7 linked regions of the Homo sapiens genome follow. The protein of the gene in region 4 purifies or fractionates together with the protein of the main gene of each other region. This does not show direct contact. Each region holds a gene or a part of one and is shown on either strand. Other genes may lie near its edges. The genes, in order: CAMKK2, IFFO1, WDR62, DUSP16, ESPL1, GARRE1 and IFT172.

The links.
Region 1: the proteins of DUSP16 (region 4) and CAMKK2 purify together in Homo sapiens (affinity purification with mass spectrometry; one large-scale study listed by BioGRID and IntAct). This does not show direct contact.
Region 2: the proteins of DUSP16 (region 4) and IFFO1 purify together in Homo sapiens (affinity purification with mass spectrometry; one large-scale study listed by BioGRID and IntAct). This does not show direct contact.
Region 3: the proteins of DUSP16 (region 4) and WDR62 purify together in Homo sapiens (affinity purification with mass spectrometry; one large-scale study listed by BioGRID and IntAct). This does not show direct contact.
Region 5: the proteins of DUSP16 (region 4) and ESPL1 purify together in Homo sapiens (affinity purification with mass spectrometry; one large-scale study listed by BioGRID and IntAct). This does not show direct contact.
Region 6: the proteins of DUSP16 (region 4) and GARRE1 purify together in Homo sapiens (affinity purification with mass spectrometry; one large-scale study listed by BioGRID and IntAct). This does not show direct contact.
Region 7: the proteins of DUSP16 (region 4) and IFT172 purify together in Homo sapiens (affinity purification with mass spectrometry; one large-scale study listed by BioGRID and IntAct). This does not show direct contact.

What each region holds. Positions count from the first base shown.
Region 1 is NC_000012.12:121,286,710-121,290,209, reverse strand, and holds part of CAMKK2 (calcium/calmodulin-dependent protein kinase kinase 2), read left to right. Parts: intron 1-3,500. UniProt on the Homo sapiens protein: Calcium/calmodulin-dependent protein kinase belonging to a proposed calcium-triggered signaling cascade involved in a number of cellular processes. Isoform 1, isoform 2 and isoform 3 phosphorylate CAMK1 and CAMK4. Isoform 3 phosphorylates CAMK1D.
Region 2 is NC_000012.12:6,542,543-6,546,042, reverse strand, and holds part of IFFO1 (non-homologous end joining factor IFFO1), read left to right. Parts: intron 1-3,500. UniProt on the Homo sapiens protein: Nuclear matrix protein involved in the immobilization of broken DNA ends and the suppression of chromosome translocation during DNA double-strand breaks (DSBs).
Region 3 is NC_000019.10:36,102,753-36,105,608, reverse strand, and holds the end of WDR62 (WD repeat-containing protein 62), read right to left. Parts: coding exon 2,758-2,856; intron 2,662-2,757; coding exon 2,535-2,661; intron 2,454-2,534; coding exon 2,402-2,453; intron 2,267-2,401; coding exon 1,628-2,266; intron 1,092-1,627; coding exon 934-1,091; intron 842-933; coding exon 581-841; 3' UTR 501-580; downstream 1-500. UniProt on the Homo sapiens protein: Required for cerebral cortical development. Plays a role in neuronal proliferation and migration.
Region 4 is NC_000012.12:12,472,782-12,475,863, reverse strand, and holds the end of DUSP16 (dual specificity protein phosphatase 16), read left to right. Parts: 3' UTR 1-2,582; downstream 2,583-3,082. UniProt on the Homo sapiens protein: Dual specificity protein phosphatase involved in the inactivation of MAP kinases. Dephosphorylates MAPK10 bound to ARRB2.
Region 5 is NC_000012.12:53,271,299-53,274,798, forward strand, and holds part of ESPL1 (separin), read left to right. Parts: intron 1-1,422; coding exon 1,423-1,559; intron 1,560-3,500. UniProt on the Homo sapiens protein: Caspase-like protease, which plays a central role in the chromosome segregation by cleaving the SCC1/RAD21 subunit of the cohesin complex at the onset of anaphase. During most of the cell cycle, it is inactivated by different mechanisms.
Region 6 is NC_000019.10:34,261,054-34,264,553, reverse strand, and holds part of GARRE1 (granule associated Rac and RHOG effector protein 1), read right to left. Parts: intron 1-3,500. UniProt on the Homo sapiens protein: Acts as an effector of RAC1.
Region 7 is NC_000002.12:27,479,744-27,483,243, reverse strand, and holds part of IFT172 (intraflagellar transport protein 172 homolog), read left to right. Parts: intron 1-1,983; coding exon 1,984-2,198; intron 2,199-3,094; coding exon 3,095-3,218; intron 3,219-3,500. UniProt on the Homo sapiens protein: Required for the maintenance and formation of cilia. Plays an indirect role in hedgehog (Hh) signaling, cilia being required for all activity of the hedgehog pathway.

The sequences.
Region 1 (3,500 bases), about 110 Mb from region 4:
TGGCCTGAGAGGAAGGCCAGCAGAGATCAGCTCCTGAACCCTTCCATGTTCCAGACAAGGGAAGCGGAGTACAGAAAGGAAGGGAGGACGTGATCTTTGCGGAACAATTAGCTTGAGCCACGCTGTGTACTAGGGACTGCCATAGAGAAGATCAACTCTATAGCCACCCTCTTAGGTAGGTCTGGCACCATTTCACAGATGAGAAAATCAAGGCTCAAGGTCCTCTGGGATCTGTATCCTTTCCTGATGTACCTTCTCTTCCTGAGGTCTTAGGCCTCCCTTGGCTCCCCGCCCCGCCTTTTTTTTTTTTTTTTTTAAAGACAGGGTCTTGCTCTGTCTCTCAGGCTGGAGTGCAGTAGCATGATCTCAGCTCACCGCAACCTCTGCCTCCTGGGTTCAGGCGATTGTCGTGCCTCAACCTTCCAAGTAGCTGGAATTACAGGCACGTCCCATCACGCCTGGCTAATTTTTGTATTTTTAGTGGAGACGAGGTTTCACCATGTAGGCCAGGCTGGTCTCGAACTCCTGACCTCAGGTGATCCGCCCGCCTCAGTCTCCGAAAGTGCTGGGATTACAGGCATGAGCCATCGCTCCCAACTTTGGCTCCTTGTACTGGCAAATTATGCTCGTTTTCTGATGGAGTGGAGTCCACCTTCCCTGGCAGGTTATGGGATGGAAAGCATTTCCGAATAGTTTTGGGCTCTGAGAAATAAGATTTAGAATTATTATTTGTTTTCTTCCCTGATTGGACCCCTTTCTCAACAAAACCAAGATAATAATAATAAAAAAGACATCTTTAAAATGATGTGAGTTCTGTTAGATTTTGTAGGGAAGACCCCTGGCTGCTGCTTTCCCCGTTGGGGACGTTAGTGATCCAAATGGGAAAGGGATTATTTTAGCTGCCAGTGTTTCGGTTTCAGTCATGTTTGTAGTATTGCCACTGAAGTTTTTTTTTTTCAATTATGAAACATTTTAAGCATAGAGAAAAGCCAAAGTTTTGCTTTGTTTTTTTAAACTGGCTCGCTTTTTGGAAAGCTGGAAGGAGGCCCAGGAGGTGACGGAAACGGGGCAGAGTGGGGCGCCCTGGCTCTGCAGGCTCGACCCTTCACCCAGCCCGCTCTTTTGGTTGGGGTGGGGTGGGGGGATTGGTGCTGGTGACAGGCTATACCCTGGGGAACTGAGAAATACTGGGACTTGGTTCCTGTCCCAGGTGAGTGGTCTCAGAGCCTTTTGGAAAAGATGAACAATTCTGACATCCTTTCCCTTTTGAAAAGGAATGAAAGAAAATGAGAAGATTCTGTAGTGCCCCCACCCCCACCCCACCCCATCCTGAAAGCTGCTGAGCAACTATTTTTATGTTGCCTCTTTTTATCCTGGTGGCTTCTGTAAATAGTTGAGAGATGGCAGTTGCAGAGATAAAAATGCTAATCCCAACCTGGAAAAGAGAGGGATGGTGGTCCTCGGAGGAAAGGGGGGTGGGAGTCAGTGGGGAGGCCAAGGTGTTGCCCCTCTGCCCACGTGGCTTAGGCATGAGGCAGGAACCCAGCGGGTGGGGTAGGAGCATTGTGGGTGGTGCCTGAGAGAAGCTTCTGTTAGAGAAGTTTAAATGGGGAACCAGTGTTTTGCGGGGGCCAGGGTGCAGAAGGGAGAGCACACTCCCTTTTTCATTTTTGAAATGTGCTTTGGGGTATTGCCTTCAAGGCTTCTGGCAGAGAAATATTTTATTCGGTTCATCCTGGACAGTTCTGCCCTCTAGGTCCAGGTGTGGGGACGTTGGGCCCCGCAGAGCTGCAGAGCTGGCTCCCTGCACTCTTCTTGTCCCTCAGCTGAGGAGGCTTGCAGCTAGATTTAGCATGATGTCCAAAAGGTGGGGAGGAGGGAGGGAGAGGGGCCGTGGGTAGCCCAGGCACCGATGCCTGTGGGTTTCGAGCTGGCCCTCTCCATCTCTGATTTGCCAAGAGCATGCTGGGTAGAAGTCTTTTTCTTGTTCATTACAAACTGAAATTCCAGTTGTTTTCCAACCTCTTCCTTTGGTTCAGTGAAAGATTGAGAGGGATGCAGTGGGGGAAGAGGAAGGAAGGAAGATGGTTTCTACACTTTATTTCCAAATACCTCCCTCCTCTAAACACATACCCAAACTCACCCACACATTCGTAAGCTCCTCACACTTCAAGGCTGGGGCCACCCATGCACACCTGGTTTTATTTTTATTTATATTTTTTAAATTTAAAAATTTTCGAGACAGAGCCTTTCTCTGTTGCACAGGCTGGAATGCAATGGTGCAATCATAGCTCAGTACAGCCCCAACCTCCTGGCCTCAAGGGATCCTCTCACCTCAGCCTCTGACGGAGCTGGGACCACAGGTGTGCAGCACCACACTTGGCTAATGTAAACATTTTTTTGTGTGGTGATGGGGTCTTGCTGTGTTGCCCAAGCTGGTCTCGAATCCTGGCCTCAAGCGATCTTCCTGCTTCGGCCTCCCAAAGCACTAGCATTATAGGCGTGAGCCACCACTGTACCTGGCCCACAGCTGGCTTTAGATGTCTGACTGCGTGACTGGGGCCATTCTTTCAGTGATATTTCATTACTGACTAAGTAATAGCTGCCTAAGAATTCTTAAGACAGTTGGCCCTGGCAAGCAGCAAGACAGGGGAACTGCTTACTCTGTGAGTATCCAGGGCCTCAAGGGTCACTGGGCTGCAGGGCAGGCCACCTGGATCTCCTCCTGGCCCAACTGCGAGCCTGCTGGGCTGCCTGGATGAGGTCATCTCAACTTCTCTGAGTCTCGGTGACTCCATCTGCAGCCTCTGTTGCGCTGATTGCAAAAGCCATGTGAGAATGTGCTCTTATGACACATGGAAGCAAGGATGTGAAATGATATGCATACGCTATTTTTAATTTTGTAAAATGTGATGCATATGGACAAGGGCTAGAGGGGAAGATGAAGAGTTAGCACGGCAGGATTAGAGATTTAAGAGATTTCGTTTTAAAATAAATTGAAACCAGCTAGGCACAGTGGCTCATGCCTATAATCCCAGCACTTTGGGAGGCTGAGGCAGGTGGATCACTTGAGCCCAGGAGTTTGAGAACAGCCTGGGCAACATGGCAAAACCCCATCTCTACCAAAAATACAAAAAATTAGCCAAGTGTGGTGGTGTATGCCTGTAGTCCCAGATACTTGGGAGGTAAGGTGGGAGGATCACCTGAGCCCAGGAGTTCGAGGCTGCAGTGAACTATGATTGCACCACTGCATTCCAGCCTGGGCAATAGAGTGAGACCCTGTCCCCAACCGCCCCGCCCCCCAAAAAAAGGAAGCCAACTGAGGGTCGTGAATTCAGTAACTGCCAAAGTTCTTTCTTGGCAATAGCTTCTATATAGTGAGCATTCACACTTGTGCCCTCCTGAAGCACTCAGAAGCTGGATGATTGTGAGCAAGTCAGCCAGGCTCTCTGTGCCTCAGTTTCCCCACTGGTGGAACAGGGATAATAGCAGGACCTATT
Region 2 (3,500 bases), 5.9 Mb from region 4:
CGGATAGAAGATTCATTCTTACTGTAGAGCTTACCAACCTCAGCATCGGATTCTTTTTCTTATTAAGTTGAAAACTTTTACCTTTTCACTTAAAGGGAGCATATTTTGGCTTCTCTTTCACATATCCAAATTGCCAGCATCACTACTCTTGTGCTTTGGGGCCATTATGAAGTAAAAATAAGGGTTCCTTGAACACGGGCACTGCCATACCACGACAGTCAATCTCATCACTGAGATGGCTCCTAAGTAACTAATGGGCAGGCAGTATAGACAGTGTGGATCCTTGGGACAGAGGGAGGGTTCATGTCCTGGTCTGGATAGAGTGAGGTTTTTTTTTTTTTTTCCGAGACGGAGTCTCGCTGTGTCACCCAGGCTGGAGTGCAGTGGCTTGAACTCGGCTCACTGCAAGCTCCACCTCCTGGGTTCACGCCATTCTCCTGCCTCAGCCTCCTGAGTAGCTGGGACTACAGGCGCCCGCCATCACGCCCGGCTAATTTCTTTTGTATTTTTTAGTAGAGATGGGGTTTCACCGTGTTAGCCAGGATGATCTCGATCTCCTGACCTCATGATCCGCCCACCTCGGCCTCCCAAAGTGCTGGGATTATAGGCGTGAGCCACCGCGCCCGGCAGAGAGAGTGAGATTTTATCAGGCCACTCAGAACAGCGTGCAATTTAAAACTTAGGAATTGTTTATTTCTGGAATATTTCATTTAATATTTTCAGATCAAGGTTCACCTTGGGTACCTGAAGCCGTGGAAAGTGAAACCAGTGGATAAGGAGAGAGTGACTTTATTCTTTTCATTTATTTATTTATTTATTTATTTTTTTGAGACGTAGTCTCGCTGTGTCGCCCAGGCTGGAGTGCAGTGGCGCGATCTCAGCTCACTGCAAGCTCCACCTCCCAGGTTCACGCCATTCTCCTGCCTCAGCCTCCAGAGTAGCTGGGACTACAGGCGCCTGCCACTACGCCCGGCTAATTTTTTGTATTTTTTAGTAGAGACGGGGTTTCACCATGTTAGCCAGGATGGTCTCGATCTCCTGACCTCGTGATCCACCCGCCTCGGCCTTCCAAAGTGCTGGGATTACAGGCGTGAGCCACCGCGCCCGGCCTTGACTTTATTCTTATTGCTGTCACATTGGAGGTGTTTGAGAAGGAAGTCGAGAAATTATTTTCCTATATACTCATTCTCCCAACACACATCAAACTGTCCTGCTCCTGCATCAAACCTGGTTTTCTTGGCCAGGTAGATGAGGTTTCCTGGATTTGTGCTGCTAGCTAAAGACATGGCAAGGGAAACCAGTACTCCCCACCCTCCCGTCTACCGCGGCTCACTGTTTCCTCCTCCTGCCTGACCTGATTCTTGTCTCCCTCTTTTGGATGGTGGATTTAAGGTTTGTGTTTTCACTGTGCCTTCAACCAACTAGGGGCCTTTGTGCGGCCATCTTCGTGAGAAGAGATCTCGGGCTGCCATCTCTCCCTAGTCTTCCCTGGACCTCAAGTGCCCAGTGTAAAACATGATCTGAAAGAACGAAAATAATATCTTAAATGGAATCATGCCTTTTAAGCTATTTTTGGCTGGGCGTGGTGGCTCTCGCCTGTAATCCCAGCACTTTGGGAGGCCAACGCGGGCAGATCACTTGAGGTCAGGAGTGTGAGACCAGCCTGGCCACCAACATGTGAAACCCCGTCTCTACTAAAAATACAAAAAGTAGCCAGGCATTGTGGTGGGCACCTGTAATCCCAGCTACTTGGGAGGCTGAGGCAGGAGAATTGCTGGAATCTGGGAGGTGGAGGCTGCAGTGAGCTGAGATTGTGCCACTGCACCACAGCCTGGGTGACAGAGCAAGATTCCATCTCAGGAAAAAAAAAAAAAAAAGTATTTTCAAATCATCTGACTCCTCCTCTCTCCCAGTGCAATGACTTTAGGCAGCAGTCCCCAACCTTTTTGGTACCAGGGACTGGTTTGTGGAAGACAGTTTTTCCACTGACCCGGGGGAAATGATTTTGAGATGATTCAAACATTACATTTATTGTGTACTTTATTACTATTTTTAAAAATTATTATTATTATTTTTAGAGACAGAGTTTTGCTCTTGTTGCCCAGGCTGGAGTGCAATGGCGCAATCTTGGCTCACTGCAGCCTCCGCCTCCCGGGCTCAAGCAATTCTCCTGCCTCAGCCTCCCAAGTAGCTGGGATTACGGGCATGTGCCACCACGCCTGGCTAATTTTGTATTTTTAGTAGAGATGGGGTTTCTCCATGTTGGTCAAGCTGGTCTCGAACTCCCGACCTCAGGTGATCCACCACCTCGGCCTCCCAAAGTGCTGGGATTACAGGCATGAGCCACCGCACCCGGCCTGTGCACTTTATTTCTATTATTATTACATTATAATATATAATGAAATAATTATACATCTCACCATAATGTAGAATCAGTGGGAGCCATGAACTTGTTTTCCGCAACTAGACGGTCCCATCTGGGGGTGATGGGAGATAGTGACAGATCATCAGGCATTAGATTCTCATAAGGAGCACACAGCCTAGATCCCTCGCATGCACAGTTCACGTAAGGTAGGGTTCAGGATCCTGTGAGAATCTAATGCCGCCGCGGATCTGACAGGAGGTGGAGCTCAGGCTGTAATGCCAGTGATGGGGAGCAGCTGTAAATACAGATGAAGCTTCACTCACTTGCCCACTGCTCACCTCCTGCTATTTGGCCTGGTTCCTAACAGGCCACAGACAGGTACTGGTCCGTGGCCTGGGGTTTGGGGACTTCTGCATTAGGGGAACCGTTAGGAGGACTTGCTGACCTCAGGAGTACCCAAGGTGCCTTTATCTTTGTGACCTTTGATCTCTCAGGGTCACTAAGATGGAGCAAGGTAAAGCCAAGGCCCAGAGTGGTGGGCGGGAGGCAGTTCTTCCCCACCGCTCCTCACCTCTCTCTGTCTCCTCCCGTCCCACCCCCAAGTCTGTTCACACAGCGAGCCTGCAGTTTTCAAGGTGGCTTGTCAAGGACATCTCCTGACATGCACGTTCACCTCCTGACCTTGTTCCTGCTGTAAATTTGTGAATTAAGTGGGGACATAGACATATGCAGAGACTACTGGTGGCAGTACTAGCCTTGTATTTCAGTAGAATATATTTGGTTCATTTCCTTCTTCCCAGTCTCCCTGAGTGATGGTTCCAGAACCCAGCTCCCTGCACTCCGGTTCTTCCAAGGTGGAGAAATTGGGGTGTAGGCAGCTGATCTGAACAAGGGCTGGTGGCACTGTATTTTCCCCCTGGGTTGAACAGTCACCGTGTCCTGCTCCTCCCACTACTGTGGGGCCCCAGCTGTGGATCCAAGCCTGCCAGGGAAGCTGTCCCCACTAGGGCTTCTCACCCAGCCAGCCGCCATCTCACCCCAAATGTCACTGTCCTGACCATCTCTGCTGTCTGGCCCTGTAACCTGTTTCCTTCTTTCTCTAAGTTCCCACCCTCTCTGTCCAATCCACATTATG
Region 3 (2,856 bases), on a different chromosome or scaffold from region 4:
TCCTGAGTAGCCGGGATTATAGGTGCAGGCCACCATACCCAGCTTGGGCAAGCCTGTTCATGGGTCCTCAGTTTCCCCTGTTGCAGATGGGGACACCACCACCGTGGACTTTGTGGGATCTAGTGTGGCCTTGGCCCAGAGGCCCTGAGCCATGATATGGCAAAGCGTGGACTGCTGGGCAAGGTAGGCACATGGTGATCACAGCAGCCCCAGTGAGTTCTCAGGCACTGGCAGGGGGCAGGTAAGAGGGTCTGGCTCCTCCCTGGGGCACAAATGGGCCCCACTGGGTAAGCACCTCACACTGGTCTGTGGCAGCTCTGTGGGCAGTGTGGGAGGACTGGCCCTGAGGTCATGGCTGCAGTTCCTGAACTTCTTGGGAGCGCTGGTCCCATGCTCTCCACTGACAGACACGAGTCCTCTGGGCATCACCTTCTACCCTCCCTCCCCACTTCCACTTGAAGAGGGCTTTGTGGATAGGCCCAAACAGACACCAGGAACCATTCCTCAAAGCTGTCAGTTTATTCGCTTAAAATACCTAAGTCCTCAGAAGCAGCAGGGCTGCGGTGGAGGGGCTGCGCCCTCAGTGCCCCCGTGCCTTCCTCCGCACGGCCTGCACCAGCAGCTCCGAGTAGTGTTCCAGCAGGGCCTGCAGGTCTGGGCTGGCCAGGGGGTACAGCGTCGGTGGGGACGGGGGTCCTGGGCTGGGCAGAGCCTGGGCTGGGGCCACACTAGTCCCCACCAGGCATTCAGCCTCCAGCTGGCTGTGGATCCACAGGAAGGTGGAGACCAGCTCAGTCCGTGCCTGCTGCTGCCCGGTGTCCACCTGGCCACTGGAGACCAACTGCAAGGGATGCCAGCCTTGTCAGGGGCCACCAAGGCCGGGCGGTCTCAAGAGACCCCTCAACCCTTTCCCAACTCTGGGGCTTAGCTCACCACACGGTAAAGGTCGAGGGCTTCTTGGAAGGTGGTCTGCAGCCTGTGCAAGATGTTCCCCACCCTGCTCAGCTCAAGGGGAGATGGGGGCAGGGCTTCAACCGGCACCCAGGGCTCACTCCAGCGGGCAGGGCTGCCCTGTAACAGACCAAGTGCACCTGGGGTAGAGAGAAGGGAATGAGCAAGATGAGCTGCATTCCATTGGTGTGAGCGGCCAGAGCGACTGGGTGGACTCCATGCTGTACTTCTGTCTGGAACACTTCTCTGGGTCCCCAAGGCTCCCTCCCCTTCACTCCTACAGGTCTCTGCTCCAATGCAGCCTCCTCCCTGAAGCCTCTTCTTATCTTCTGGTTTGTAATCCCAACCCCTGTCCCCACCCTGCACTCCCTCGCCCTCCTCTGTCCCTCCTAAGCATGTGTCACTTCGTGATACATATGACGGGTTCCTTAAAGGTTTAGTCTGGGCATTGTCCCCATTGAAGCTGTCAGTTCTCTGTGTTGTTTACCACCATGTCCCATGTCCCAGGGTTTAGCACAAAGCCCAACATGTAATGCTCATTAAATATTTAAGTTAATGCACGAATGAATGAATGGCACAGTCCCTGTGGCCAGGTCAAGTATCCATCTTTGGAGCTGAGCCAACTAGCACACAGGATGAGCTTAGGGGACAGTCCTTGCTCCAGGGCTGTACTCACCGGAGGTGGGCTCCAGGAGGGAGGCAGTGCCGCCAGGGATGCCAGGCCGGGCCTCTGGAAGCTGGGGGTTACTGGGGTGGGCAGGAAGGCCAGGGGACTCAGGAGCTGGGAGACTTGGGCGAAAGGCAGAGCCGTGGAGCCTCAGGGCGCTCTCTTCCACAGGGCTAGGGGCTGGGAAGCTCACTGCAGGGACGGTGACGCCAGGCTGGGTATCCACGGGGGGCTGCAGGAGCCCATCACAGGCACTTGACAGGGTCAGTCTCAGGTTGGCCCGGGCCTCGTGGTTGCCCCAGGAACGCAGGGCAGGCTCTTGGCCCTCACTGTCCAAACTGGGTGTTGTCGCGGTGGTGATGGCCTGAAGCTCCTGGCCCAAGGAGGCCAGCTCCCCAACGGACGATGGCCTACGGAGGGGCTGGGCCAGTGTGGCCACGATAGGGCCCTCACTGTCACCGAGGGAGATGCTGCGTGATATCCTGGCACGGGAGCTGGCAGTGGCCTCCATGTAGGAACAGGTGGAGGGGGCATGGACACCCTGAGCCAGGCCTGGGGTGGGTGCAGATGTGGGCGTTGGGAGATTCCTGTCTGTGGGCAGCACGGAGGAAGCAGGGACACAGGACGCCAGGCTCGTAAGGCAGGGAGCTGTAACGGAAGCAGATGGCACTGACTCCACCACACAGAACTGATGGCTAGGGCCCCCACGCCCCACAGCTAGGCTGGACATCCGGCCACTCGCCGAGAAACCCAGGACTGTCCGTCTGGGACTGGGGCACTCACGTGGTGGGCGCCAGGCCTCCAGGGTCTCTTCAGCCTTCCCTGCAGCGAGGACCTGCAGGCACAGCTCTGAGGTGAGGACAAGGCCTCAGGGTTCCCAGCCCCGTGCCCTGACGGAGGTGGGCCCAATACTCACGTGGGTCCTGTCTGGGGAGGCGTAGCCAGTACCTGCTCTGGGCTGGCTTCCGCCTCGGTCCATGAGCTTGACCTCTGGAGACTTCACAAGGCACTGGGTTGCCCGGGGAGGGAAGGTATGGGTGAACCTGTGGGGAGGAGAGCAGGGGGGATGATTCTCATTCAGCCTGCCCTGGGGCACTGTTGAGGAGCCAGAGGGTGGGCAGTGCTTGGCCAGCTTCTACCTGGATGCCTTCTGGAGGCTTGAGAGGAACTGCGTGGAGATACTCAGGCGTGGGTTGAAGAAGTGGTCTTCAGCTTCAGAGGCCTCCACGTCTCCCAGA
Region 4 (3,082 bases):
GAGCAGCAGCACCTTCAAATTCTCAGCCAAAGCAGATGTTTTTGCCCTTTCTGCTTCACTGCATGGATACAGTTGGTAAAATGTAATAATATGGCAGAATTTTATAGGAAACTTCCTAGGGAGGTAAATTATGGGAAGATTAAGAAAGGTACAAATTGCTGAGGAGAAGCAGGAAACCTGTTTCCTTAGTGGCTTTTATCCCCTCGGCATGCGATGGGGCTGATGTTTCTATGATTGCCTCAGACTTTCACATTTACTAGTAGGGCTGAGAGAGGCTTTAGTGAGGAAGGAATATTCAGAATAAAACGGTTGAGAAAGCTGAGAAGACCATTGAGTTTTGATCAGTTGTGAATAGAGTGCAAAGCCATGGCCAAGCTGTTTTTGGAAACGCTGGCCGGCGTGTCTTCAGTGGAAAAAGCAAATCAAAATGGAGCGAGAGCAAAGGGGCGTCCTCAGTCCTCAACCTACAATCACTGTATGGAATCGGTCCTGGCAGCTGAACATAGGAGGTCACTGGAACAAGTGATAGTGCAGATTGGCTTTCAAACATCCTCCTGGCTTGAGTTTTATCAGCTACAATGTGGGTCCTCTTTTGAAGCCTTAATTCACAACAGCAGCTTTTTGGGGGTGGGGCTGGGCGGGTGTTGTCATTGTTCTTTCCCTTCCTGTAAGTGTCGCTAGTTGCTGCCTCGTATCTCAGGTTTTTCTCTGTTTTTGAGAAATGGACAGTTTTTTGACCAGGATGTGACTTCATGTTTCCTATGGTGACTTCTAAAACCAGCACAGAATGATATGACTCAACACAGACCGACTTGGTTATGGGGATGATGAGCCGCACAGACCTCACTAGTTGTGCACAAATAATGTGCTATGATGGGGTGTAAAGTGAAGGCAGAAGAGGGTCAGCCGCATTGTTATGATACTGGGAAAGTGCTGGTCAACGATTTGAGTTAGTTTTTAGATATACATTGAAATCTTTAATCAGACATTCTCAAGTTTCACACAGTAGTTTTTGATGTTATGTACACACACACCAAATGTGTAACAGTTCACCACTTCCAGAGTGTGGTCATGCCCAAAACATGTTTAAGAAAGGAAAGCAGTAGCTCCTTGCTAACGATGTTTCAGGAGGTTTGGGGGACTTGGTTTTAATGAGCTTCTGTCATTTAGGGCTTCTCTTGGCCATGGTCCCCCTTCCTTCTGGAACTGTGATGTAGTCACATCCTACAGCCTTTAGTGCTGGTTCACTAGTGTCAGATAATCAGTTCTTGGAATCGAGACTGCCGTGGCGAAGGGGTGGCCTCGGAGGCAGGCTCTGGAGCTGCTTGGATGTCTTTAGGTGGGGTGGTGGCTGGCTCTCTTCAGCATGTAATTGGGGAAACCCTCGCGTCTACTAGGGGTGATACAGATGGTGATTTTAAAGAGCAAAACTAGACTTCTATGTGAGAAGTGCTGGAAAATGATTTAGGACATGTGTAAAGTTAGATGGAAAGACTGTAAATGTTTAATATGAATATAGTGTTCTTTTGAAGTAAGGCCAGCTGTTGAACGGTTAAACTGTGCATTTCTCATTTTGATGTGTCATGTATGTTAATGTATGAAATGATTAAATAAAATCAAAACTGGTACCTGTTTATACATAAATACGAGAAAAGACCTATCTTTGCAGCCATAAACTCGGTGGGAACACCACCACTCAAGTTGCCAAAGGAGGCAGTGGTGAAACCTGTCCTGTTCTCACTTAAATGAGGATTTAGCTCAAAATAAAGTGGTGGTGTCATCAGGTTTATTCCGTGTTCTGTCATTCACATGGAACACCGGATGATTAGCTAACAGTTTAGTGCCAGCCTTCATTCTTTACTGTGTACGTTAAATGCACACTACAGTGAAAAAGCCTAAGACACTTGGTAAATATTTTCTAGCTGACTGATTCCAGAACACACAAGTACATGGTAGGAAAAAAAAGGCCAGCTACACACACATGGCCCATTTCGATATAACATGTAAATGATGTTACGATTCCTACAGGAAAAACAGGAAGGGCAATTGTTGAAGAGCTGTCCTTTGTCCTTGCCACATACATCTCAACAACCTCTCTGCTCATGACACTAGATTTGATGACTTATGAGACTAGAAACTTAGTCTCATCAGTTTCATAAAAATTAGGCATTGAAGGAATAAAGCTTCAGTGCAAACAGATGGAATATTGACTACAGAAAGAATCACAGGTGACCTTGAAGTTGGTTGAGTTGAAGTTACATTTAAGAAAATTTATAAGAAAGATTGGGCCGGGTGAGCTAGACTAGAAGAGCTATCTTGGCCAGGACCCTGCAGAAAAAGAGGTGGAAGTGAGATAGAGGAATAAAGGGAATTAGAATAAATCAGCCTCCAGAGATAGAGGGTAACAGGAGGAACAGTTGTTTCAGTGAGAGGCTTCCAATGAGAAGATGCAGATCTTGGGAGAGCCTGAAGTTCAGGCCAGTTGCTGACAGTGCTCGGAGCCCCTTCATGACCAGCCTCAGCAGGCTATTGTTGGAGGACTGGTTTGGATGTGACAACTACAATTAGACCAGGAATTAAACTAAGAGGGGAGGCTGGGGGCGGTGGCTCACGCTTGTAATCCCAGCACTTTGGGAGGCCAAGGCAGGTGGATTACCTGAGGTCAGGAGTTTGAGACCAACCGGGCCTACCTGGTGAAATCCCTTCTCTACTAAAAATACAAAAATTAGCCAGGTGTGGGTGCCTGTCATCCCAGCTACTTGGGAGGCTGAGGCACGAGAATTGCTTGAACCTAGGAGGTGGAGGTTACAGTGAGCCAAGATTTCGCCATTGCACTCCAGCCTGGGCAACAAGAGCGAAACTCCATTTTAAACAAAAAATAAACTAAGGGGAAATTAGTGAGAGGTGACAGCGCACTGGCAGCCCTCACACCCCTCACTCACTCTCAGCACCTCCTCTGCCTGGGCTTCCACTTTGGCGGCACTTGAGGAGCCCTTCAGCCCGCCGCTGCACTGTGGGAGCCCCTTTCTCGGCTGGCCAAGGCGGAGCCGGCTCCCTCAGCTTGCCGGGAGGTGTGGAGGGA
Region 5 (3,500 bases), about 41 Mb from region 4:
AACGAGCTCACCTTGCAGGTTCAAGCGACTCTCCTGCCTCAGCCTCCCAAGTAGCTGGGACTGCAGGCGCGCACCACTATGCCTGGCTAATTTTTGTATTTTTTGTAGAGATGATGTCTGGCCATATTGTCCAGGCTGGTCTTGAACTCCTGGACTCGAGTGATCTGCCCACCTTGGCTTCCCTGAAACCCTGTCTCTACTAAAAATAGAAAACTAGCCAGGCAAGGTGGTGCATGCCTGTAATCCCAGCTACTTGGTAGGCTGAGGCAGGAGAGTCGCTTGAACCTGCAAGGTGGAGGTTGCAGTGAGCCAAGATTGCACCACTGCACTCCAGCCTGGGCAAGAGGGCACTCCAGCCTGGGCAACAAGAGCGAAACTCCATCTCAAAAAAAAAGGAGAATTCTTCCCACAGAGTACTGAAGACTGACTTTATTTTCTCCCAGTCATCTATGTTGATGGCCAAGAAGCTGCATAAATAAGTTATTATCATTTATTCAGCAAATATTTGTTGCCGGGCGCAGTGGCTCACGCCTGTAATCCCAGCACTTTGGGAGGCCGAGGCGGGCGGATAACGAGGTCAGGAGATCGAGACCATCCTGGCTAACAGTGAAACCCCGTCTCTACTAAAAATACAAAAAATTAGCCGGGCGTGGTGGCAGGCGCCTGTACTCCCAGCTACTCAGGAGGCTGAGGCAGGAGAATGGTGTGAACCCGGGAGGTGGAGCTTGCAGTGAGCCAAGATCGTGCCACTGCTCTCCAGTCTGAGCGACAGAGCAAGACTCTGTCTCAAAAAAAAAAAAAAAAAATTTGTTGAGTACTCACTGTGTGCAACGCACTATTTGGAGTACTTGGATGTGTCGGTAAGCAAAACAAAGTTTCCTTCCCTCATGGAGCCACGTTCTAGTTTGGGGGGAAAAGATAAACAGATTCAGTAAATAAGTGAATTATCAACATATTAGAACGTGATAAGAAATGTGGGGGAAAGGAAAAGTAGAGCAGGATAAGAAAGGGAATTGGGAGTCTAAGGTGCATGACGGGGGGCAAGTTACCACCTTAAATCAGGTGGTCAGGGTAGACCTCATTGAGAGGGTGACATGAGCAAAGGCTTGGAGGATGTGAGGGAGTCAGCCATGTGGGTTCCTGGAAAAGAACATCCCTGGCAGAAGAAACAGCCAGTGCTGAGGCAGGAGGGGGTCTCGTTTGTAAAATGAGTGCAGATGGGCTGAGTGGTGTGAAGGGCATGGGCCTATTTGGGGCAGGAAGGGGAGAGCCGCCCCTTCCCCATTCCTAGCAGTAGGGGTTCCTGTCTGATCTGGAAGCTGCTGAACTGACCACAGATCCAGCTGATCTCTGCTGCCTCTCCAGGAGGAGAGGGTGGTGGGAGCCTTTCCTATGGTCAATTGTGCCTTTTCTCCCCTGCAGCTTCTTACACCAGTAATTTGGCCTACAGCTTCTATAGTCACAAGCTCTATGCCGAGGCCTGTGCCATCTCTGAGCCGCTCTGTCAGCACCTGGGTTTGGTGAAGCCAGGCACTTATCCCGAGGTGCCTCCTGAGAAGGTACAAGGGAATGAGAGATGCAGGAAAGGAGCTTATGTGGTTGGGGAGCGGGGGGAGCGGGGAAGGGCCTCACCAGCACCCTGCCTTGGAGTGGGAGGTTAATAGCAGCATGTTGACACCAGTATCTGGAGCAGTGTTTCCCAAACCTCACTGTACTGTTACTTACTGTTGACTCATTTTTTTTTTTTTTTTTTTTTGAGACGAGTCTCGCTCTGTCGCCCAGGCTGGAGTGCAGTGGCACAATCTTGGCTCACTGCAACCTTTGCCTCAGCAAAGGTTCAAGCAATTCTCCTGCCTCAGCCTCCCAAGTAGCTGGGATTACAGGTGCCCACCACCACGCCCAGCTAATTTTTGTATTTTTTGTAGAGACGGGGTTTCACCATTTTGGTTGGCCAGGCTGGTCTCAAACTCCAGACCTCAGGTGATCCGCCTGCCTCAGCCTCCCAAAGTGCTGGGATTACAGGTGTGAGCCACCGCAGCCGGCCTGACTCACTTTTTATATTTAGCCTGGTCCTAAGCTACTGGTTTCCAGCCAAGCTGCACATTAGAATCACCTGAGTGACCTTTAAGAAAATTCTAATGTCTGCCCCGAGTTAATTGCATCAGAATCTCTAGTGTTTGCCGGGCGTGATGGCTCACGCCTATAATTCCAGCACTTTGGGAGGCTGAGGCAGGTGGATCACCTGAGGTCTGGAGTTTGAGACCAGCCTGTCCAACATGGTGAAACCCCGTCTCTACTGAAAATACAAACATTAGCCAGGCGTGGTGGCATGTGCCTGTAATCCCAGCTACTTTGGAGGCTGAGGCAGGAGAATTGCCTGAACCCAGGAGGTGGAGTTTGCAGTGAGCCGAGATTGTGCTACTGTACTCCAGCCTGGGCTACAGAGCAAGACTCCATCTCACATCTGAATATTTTCAAAGATCCCCCAGGTGGTCCTTTGAGCAAGGAGAGTGAGAACCTGGGTTCTTGGTTTTTTGGTTTTTTTTTTTTTTTTTTTTTTTTTTTTTTGGAGACTGAGTCTTGCTCTTGCTTTGTCACCCAGGCTGGAGTGCAGTGGCACGATCTCGGCTCACTGCAACCTCCACCTCCTGGGTTCAAGCAATTCTCTGCCTCAGCCTCCTGAGTAGCTGGGATTATAGGCATGCGCCACCATGCCTGGCTAATTTTTGTATTTTTAGTAGAGACGGGGGTTTCATCATCTTGGCCGGGCTGGTCTTGAACTCCTGACCTCATGATCCACCCGCCTCGGCCTCCCAAAGTGCTGGGATTACCGGCGCAAGCCACCGCGCTGGGCAAGAACCAGTGTTCTTAAGCAAGAATACCTGTGAACTGATGCATTGGCGGGATTGGCAAGCAAGATGAGTCATAGAGGGGCTTGGGTTTCATCTTAACTGAGATGATAAGCCTCTAAAGGATTTAAGTGGAGGCATGACAGCAGACAGGCATTTTGGATTTCCCTGACTTCGCTGTGATGAATGGAGTGCAGGAGAAAAGACCGGGTAATCAGGCTGCTATAGTATTCTAGGCAGGGAAGGGTGGGCTGAACTGAAGCAGCTGCACGAGGGATGGAATGCAGTGGATCGGTGCGAGAAGCCAAGGATTAACCTGGTAGGTGACTGGCGGGAGGGAGAGCGAGAGAAGGGAACATCAGAGATGGCCCCACATTTCTTACTCAGGAGAAGGCAGTGCCATTTGCTGAGAAGGATTACAGGAGAAGCAGGTTTTCAAGGGTGTGGATGATGAACATAGGGGTGGAGTGGATTGCAGCCTCTGAGTTGAAGGCACTCAGAGTATTTCATTCTTAGGTGTCTCCTGCCTTGGGTGGGTGTGGCTCAGGAGGCCCACCTGCCAACCCCGCCCCCTCATGTGGTGTATGTACCTATTGCATGCATATCCCCTTCCACCATACACACTCACTGGTTCCTCTCCAGTTTGGTCTG
Region 6 (3,500 bases), on a different chromosome or scaffold from region 4:
GGTGGCGGGCACCTGTAGTCCCAGCTACTCAGGAGGCTGAGGCAGGAGAATGGCGTGAACCGGGGAGGCAGAGCTTGCAGTGAGCTGAGATCATGCCACTGCATTCTAGCCTGGGCAACAGAGCAAGACTCCGTCCCCCCCTCCAAAAAAAAAAAGACATGTCATCACATGACACGTCCAAATTTCAGGCCTCCTCAAAGCTCTTGTCCTGTTTCTGACTCCTCTGCCTGCCTCAGGCTGGCTGGGACACACAACATGGAAAAAGTCCCTTTGTGTTATTTTCCCTCTAGAAATTACCCATATTTAACAACCATCATTTTGATGAAACCATCTTGGGCCACCTCAGTTCCCAAGGAGCCTTTCTGACTCCTGCAGCCTCTGCTGTCTCTGTCATTAGCTGCATGCTCTCCCTTTCCAAATGAACTGGGAGCATCAGAGACAGAGGCTGGACACATCTTTACACTTACGGTCATGCATAGCACAGGGACAGAGCAACAGAGACGACGACAAACACATACCTCCTGGGAACTGTTCCAAGGACTTTACAAATATTAACTCAGTAATGCCTCACTACAACCCCAGGAGGCAGGTATTACTACCTCCCCATTTTCAGAGGAGGTAAACTGAGGTCAAGGCAGGGGCAGGCCTTGAACCCAAGCCGCCTTGCACAGTCCTCACTCTTAACCTCCATGCTACATTCACTCTACACAACAGCCATGTCCATCATAGACATTTATTTTAAAAGTTATTGTTAAAATGAAAACATAGACCGGGTGCGGTGACTCGCGCCTGTAATCCCAGCACTTTGGGAGGCCGAGGTGGATGGATCACTTGAGGTCAGGAGTTCGAGACCAACCTGGCCAACATGGCCAACATGGTGAAACCCTGTCTCTATTAAAAATACAAAAATTAGCCAGACGTAGTGGCGGGCACCTGTAATCCCAGCTACTCAGGAGGCTGAGGCAGGAGAATCGCTTGAACCCAGGAGGCGGAGGTTGCAGTGAGCCAAGATTGCACCACTTCACTCCAGCCTAGGCAACAGAGCAAGACTCTGTCTCAAAAAAAAAAAAAGAAAAAAAAGAAAATACATATACACAGGGAAAAAAATTCACACCATACAAAATGGTATGCAAAGAAAAAGCTAACTCAGCCTAACAGCCTGGTTTTCTGGGGTCTCATCCCAAAAACAACCACTGTTTCTTTTCTATCATTCCATAAATTATTTCTGCACTTATAAACCTATTTCATGTATATCTATCTATCTATCTATCTATCTATCTATCTATCTCTCTATCGAGAGAGGGAGACATTATTTATTTTATTTTTATTTATTTATTTTTTGAGATGGAATCTTGCTCTGTCACCCAGGCTGGAGTGCAGTGGCACGATCTTGGCTCACTGCAACCTCCACCTCCCAGGTTCAAGCAATTCTCCTGCTGCAGCCTCCTGGACAGCTGGGATTACAGGCACCCGCCACCATGCCCAGTTAATTTTTGTATTTTTAGTAGAGGTGGGGTTTCACCATGTTGTCAGGCTGGTCTCAAACTCTGGACCTCAGGTGATCCGCCCGCCTCAGCCTCTCAAAGTGCTGGGATTACAGGCGTGAGCCACCATGCCTGGCCTATATATATTTTTTTAAACAAATGAGCTCATATTACTTCAAAAGTGGAGAAATTTTTTAAAATTAGAAAAACACAAATGGGCAAACATACATTGTTCTGTACCTTGCTTCTTTCACTGATTTCTCTGAGCTTGATCCACATCTGCACCTGTCCTGTTTTTATTAAATTCTAAGATATAAATATTTTTACATTTTAACTTCGTGGTTTTTCATGAAGTCAGAGGATCTTAGTGTGCTTGGACTTCATCAGGAAACAGGATCACAAAAAGCTTTTAAACATATATAAGACACTGGGAGTTATCTTGGCAGCCATGTGCAGGCTGAATCAAGAAGCAGAGGCCAGGCGAGGTGACTCACGCCTACAATCCCAGCACCTTGGGAGGCCAAGGCAGGCGGATCACCTGAGGTCAGGAGTTCCAGACCAGCCTAGCCAATATGGTGAAACCCCATCTCTACTAAAAATACAAAAATTAGCTGGGCGTGGTGACGCATGCCTGTAATCCCAGCTACTTGGGAGGCCAAGGCAGGAGAATTGCTTCGACCCAGGAGGTGGAGGTTGCAATGAGCTGAGATCGCACTACTGCATTCCAGCCTGGGTGAGAGAGAGACTCCGCCTCAAAAAAAAAAAAAAAAAAAAAAAAAAAAGCAGCAGCTGGGCATGGTGGCTCACTCCTGTAATCCCAGCACTTTGGGAGACCAAGGTGGGCGGATCACAAGGTAAGGAGTTCAAGACCAGCCTGGCCAATATGGTGAAACCCCGCCTCTATTACAAATACAAAAATTAGCCAGGCATGGTGGCACTCACCTGTAGTCCTAGCTACTCGGGAGGCTGAGGCAGAAGAATCGCTTGAACCCAGGGAGGCAGAGGTTGCAGTAAGTCGAGATCCTGCCACTGCCTTCCAGCCAGGGTGACAGAGCAAGATTCCATTTCAAAAAAAAAGGCAGGGAGACCTACCAGGTGACATGTGACATGATGCCACACATACCAGAGGTAAGTACCTACATCAAAGGGTTGTTGTGAGGATTAAACAATGCAATGTAGACAAAGCTCTCAGCATCAAACCTGGTTAGCGCAGTGAGTCGAAGGACTCAGCACAGGACCTGAAGTGCTGTTAGTGCCCAGTTAGACATTGTTATTAGTTATTTCAAGGACTGCTCCCACTTTCCAATGTCATTTCCCTCTACTCCTTATTCATACCTGTCCAGACTCTACCCTCAATCTCCTGCAGCTCAAATACCTCATGCTTGCTCTCACCTCCACACCTTTGGACGTGTCATGCCCCTGCCCAAGAGTCCTCCCCTCTTGCTGTGGCACTGGACTTACTTTTTCCCACAGTACTCAGCTCAAGAACAGCCTTCTCCAGAAGTCTCCCCTGAGAACTGCAGGCTGGATTCCCTGGATGAGCAGTGTAGGAAGAGCTTATCTGTCATTACTTCCCAGTGTCTGTTTATCAGCTTATTCAATGCACCCAGAAGCAAGCAGTTCCATGGGGATTAATTATTTAGGCTATCTAAGCTCAAAGAAAACTGATGTATGAACCAGAGGCCAGTTACTACTTTATGAATACCAACGAGAGCTAATACTGTCATTGAATACTTATCACAGGTGCCGGGTAGCACGCTCAGAGCCCTCACTGCAACACTAAGAGAAAGGTGCTACTATTATCCCCATTCTACAAATCAGAAAACTGAAAGATTAGCCAGCATCCCAAGACCAGGATCTGATCCAAGCAGCTTAGATGCAGAGCCCTCAACCACTCACATTCTCTCCTTACCAAGAAATCTCCACGTGCAGCTATCTTCTACTCAGATGGTACTGGGAGGACAGACGCTAAGCAAGGGAGAGACCCTTGCAGCCAGAGGCAACAACAGGGACACG
Region 7 (3,500 bases), on a different chromosome or scaffold from region 4:
GGAGTTTGAGACCAGCATGGGCAACACAGTGAAACCCTGTCTCTACCAAAAAAACAAAAAATAAATACAAAAATTAGTCGGGCATGGTGGCATGGGCCTGTAGTCCCAGCTACTCAGGAAGCCGAAGTGGAAAGATCACTTGAGCCCAGGAGGTTGAGCCTGCAAGTGAGCTGAAATAGCACCACTGCACTACAGCCTGGGTGACAGAACAAGACCGTGTCTCAAAAAAAAAAAAAAAAAAAGATGCTGTGGAATAGGGGATAAGGAAATTCCAGGAGCCCTCCTAGAGGAGGTTGGACTTCTAAGGCATTTGGATTGAGATACTAAGAGAGGAAGCTAGAGGAGAACTCAGGGACAGAGAAAAAGTTGGATGTGGCCACTGAGAGGATTTGTGTTTAGGAGCCTGGAGCTTACTGCTTATAAGAAGGGATGAATTAGGTGAAAGGGACCTTGAGACAAAGGGAAATAAAAACTCTTAGAGTAATGAAAAGTGAAAATTATTCCCATTTATGTAAAATATATATATTTATGTATGTAGATTCATAGAAAAAAGAGTTAATAGTTTACTCTGGAAAGGGGAAAGGAAAAAGATGGGGGATAAAAAGGAAACTTTCATGTTTTACTCTATATAATTGTGTGTTGTTTGAATCATTTACATTAAGAATTACTTGTGAGCCGTGCCTGTAATCCCAGCACTTTGGGAGGCCGAGGCGGGTGGATCACCTGAGGTCAGGAGTTGGAAACCAGCCTGACGTGAAACCCGTCTCTACTAAATACAAAAAAATTAGCTGGGCGTGGTGGCACATGCCTGTAATCCCAGCTTTCTGGGAGGCTGAGGCAGGAGAATCGCTTGAACCTGGGAGGCAGAGGTTGCAGTGAGCCAAGATCGCATGCCATTGAACTCCAGACTGGGCAACAAGAGTGAAATGCCATCTCAAAAAAAAAAAGAATTACTTGTATAGGCCGGGCACAGTGTCTCACTCCTGTAATCCCAGCACTTTGGGAGGTCAAGGCGGGTGGATGACCTGAGGTCAGGAGTTCAGGACCAGCCTGGCCAACATGGTGAAACCCCGTCTCTACTAAAAATATAAAAATTAGCCGGGCATGGTGGAACGTGCCCGGAATCCCAGCTACTCGGAAGGCTGAGGCAGGAGAATTGCTTGAACCCGGGAGGGGAGGTTGCAGTGAGGTGAGAACGCGCCACTGCACTGCAGCCCCGGCGACAGAGTGAGACTCCATCTAAAAAAAAAAAAAAAGAAGAATTATTCGTATAATACTGAAATTTGACCCTCCTTAAAAAAAGAAGCCCTATGCTCTTTGTGGGCCCAGACGGTGTTGGTTAATGTGTAGCACATCTCCTTTTCTGAGGAGCTTTACCAGGTGCATATTAAAAATTTCCAATACATGCTGGGCGTGGTGGCTCACGCCTGTGATCCCAGCACTTTGGGAGGCTGAGACGGGCTGATCACAAGGTCAGGAGTTCGAGACCAGCCTGACCAACATGGTGAAACCCCATCTCTACTAAAAACAGAAAAATTAGCCTGGTATGGTGGCACACACCTGTAATCCCAGCTACTCAGGAGGCTGAGACAGGAGAATCGCTTGAACCTGGGGAGGCGGAGGTTGCAGCGATGAGATTGTGCCACTGCACTCCAGCCTGGGCGGCAGAGTGAGACTCTGTCTCAAAAAAAAAAAAAAGAAAAAAGAAAATTCCAATATACAAGCATTTTGAGGTTTTTCTAGAGCACAAGGTCAACCCCTATGTGTATAGGGGTGTGTGTGTGTGTGTATGTGTGTGTGTGTGTGTGTGTGTGTGTGACAATTTGTGAAGAGTTCAGGATTAGGATGTGTTGGGATAGGGAAATGTTGGAAGAGATTTCTGCAGGGTATGATGGTCAGAGTGAATGTACCAGGTGTTGAGAGTGAGGAATTTCTCGGGTGGAGTCTTCGAAGAGTGATTGAAACCCTCTACTTCTGTCTTAGGGGAAGTTGGTTAACCACCCGTGTCCACCCTATGCCTTGGCATGGGCAACCAATAGCATCGTGGCTGCAGGCTGTGATCGGAAAATTGTAGCCTATGGAAAAGAAGGTCACATGCTACAAACTTTTGATTATAGCCGTGACCCTCAGGAGCGGGAGTTCACCACAGCTGTATCAAGTCCTGGGGGCCAGTCTGTTGTGCTAGGAAGTTATGACAGGTAAGTCCCCTTTCCAGTTTTATCTACTGCCTACTTTCCCTGCGAACACTCTCTGCTTTAGCCAAATTATTCTGAGCCAGAGTGCGAGACTGGAGCAGAATCAAATGTATGTATGTAATTCATGCGCTTTCCTCTTCCTGCTCCCGCTATCCATTGGTGTGCTGGCAGTTCCAAAATGTCCTGGGCTCTTGTTTTGTCTCTGTGCCGCTCCCTGCACTTCCACAGCAGAATTCATCTCTATTTTCTGTTTCCATTGCCCCCTTTGAGACCGCTTAGAGTTTCTCACATTATATTACAGTTTGTTGTTTGCAAACTACTGTTGTTTAGCCAGATAGATGGCTAAATCAGAGTCCTTGAGAAGGGGGCTTATTATTCATCTTTTCAGTGCCTAGATTAGCATCTATATGCTATATATATTTAAGATATGCTCAGATGTTTGGCGAATGAATGAATGAATGATGGAACAGCAGATAAACAGCCATGTTCCAGGTCTCATCATTTCTCTGGCATGTGTTTAACCCCAGCTTTATCAGTCCTGTCTTTCTATCCCCTTCAATCTTATGTCTCCTTGTATTCTCTTCTTTCTTCACTGACTCCTACCATTTATCTCCTTGTTCCATATTTTTTTGCTCCTAGTAGCTTATTTTTCTCACCTGCCCTGGTCTTTTTGTTTTCTCTGCTCCCCTCACTCTTATTCTGTTTTAGTTTTGCCTTGATTTTCCCAGCTTATTTCCTGTGCACCTTTATATCCTCTTCTGCTAGACTGCCTAGCTTGTCTGTTCTTTTTATTTCCTTTCTTTTCTGATATAGCAAGACTAATTTCCTTTGGTTATCAGCCCATTTGCACTCTTTAGCTCAGCCTCAATCTCTTCTAAAAGCCACATACTTTATTTCAGGCTTCGGGTGTTCAACTGGATCCCTCGAAGAAGCATCTGGGAAGAGGCAAAGCCCAAGGAGATTACCAATTTATACACCATCACTGCCTTGGCCTGGAAGCGGGATGGCTCACGGCTCTGTGTGGTGTGTTACTAGTAATCCCTTTCTGGATTGGTGACTTTCACCAAACTAGAAAAAAATCCTGCCTTATCCTAAAGCACTGTTCCCTGACACTATAGAATCTCCTCTTTCCTTTTGACCCTGACCTAAAATTCTGGCATTAAAGGCAGGAAAGAGAAATTCATACTTTACCCTAGGTCACAAAAGGGACAAAAAATTGTGTGTAGGCAGGGCTAGTTTTTCCCTTTTATCCCATTAATATGTTGTGCCCTTGAGTCCAATGATTGTAGCCTCTTTCCTTTTGGT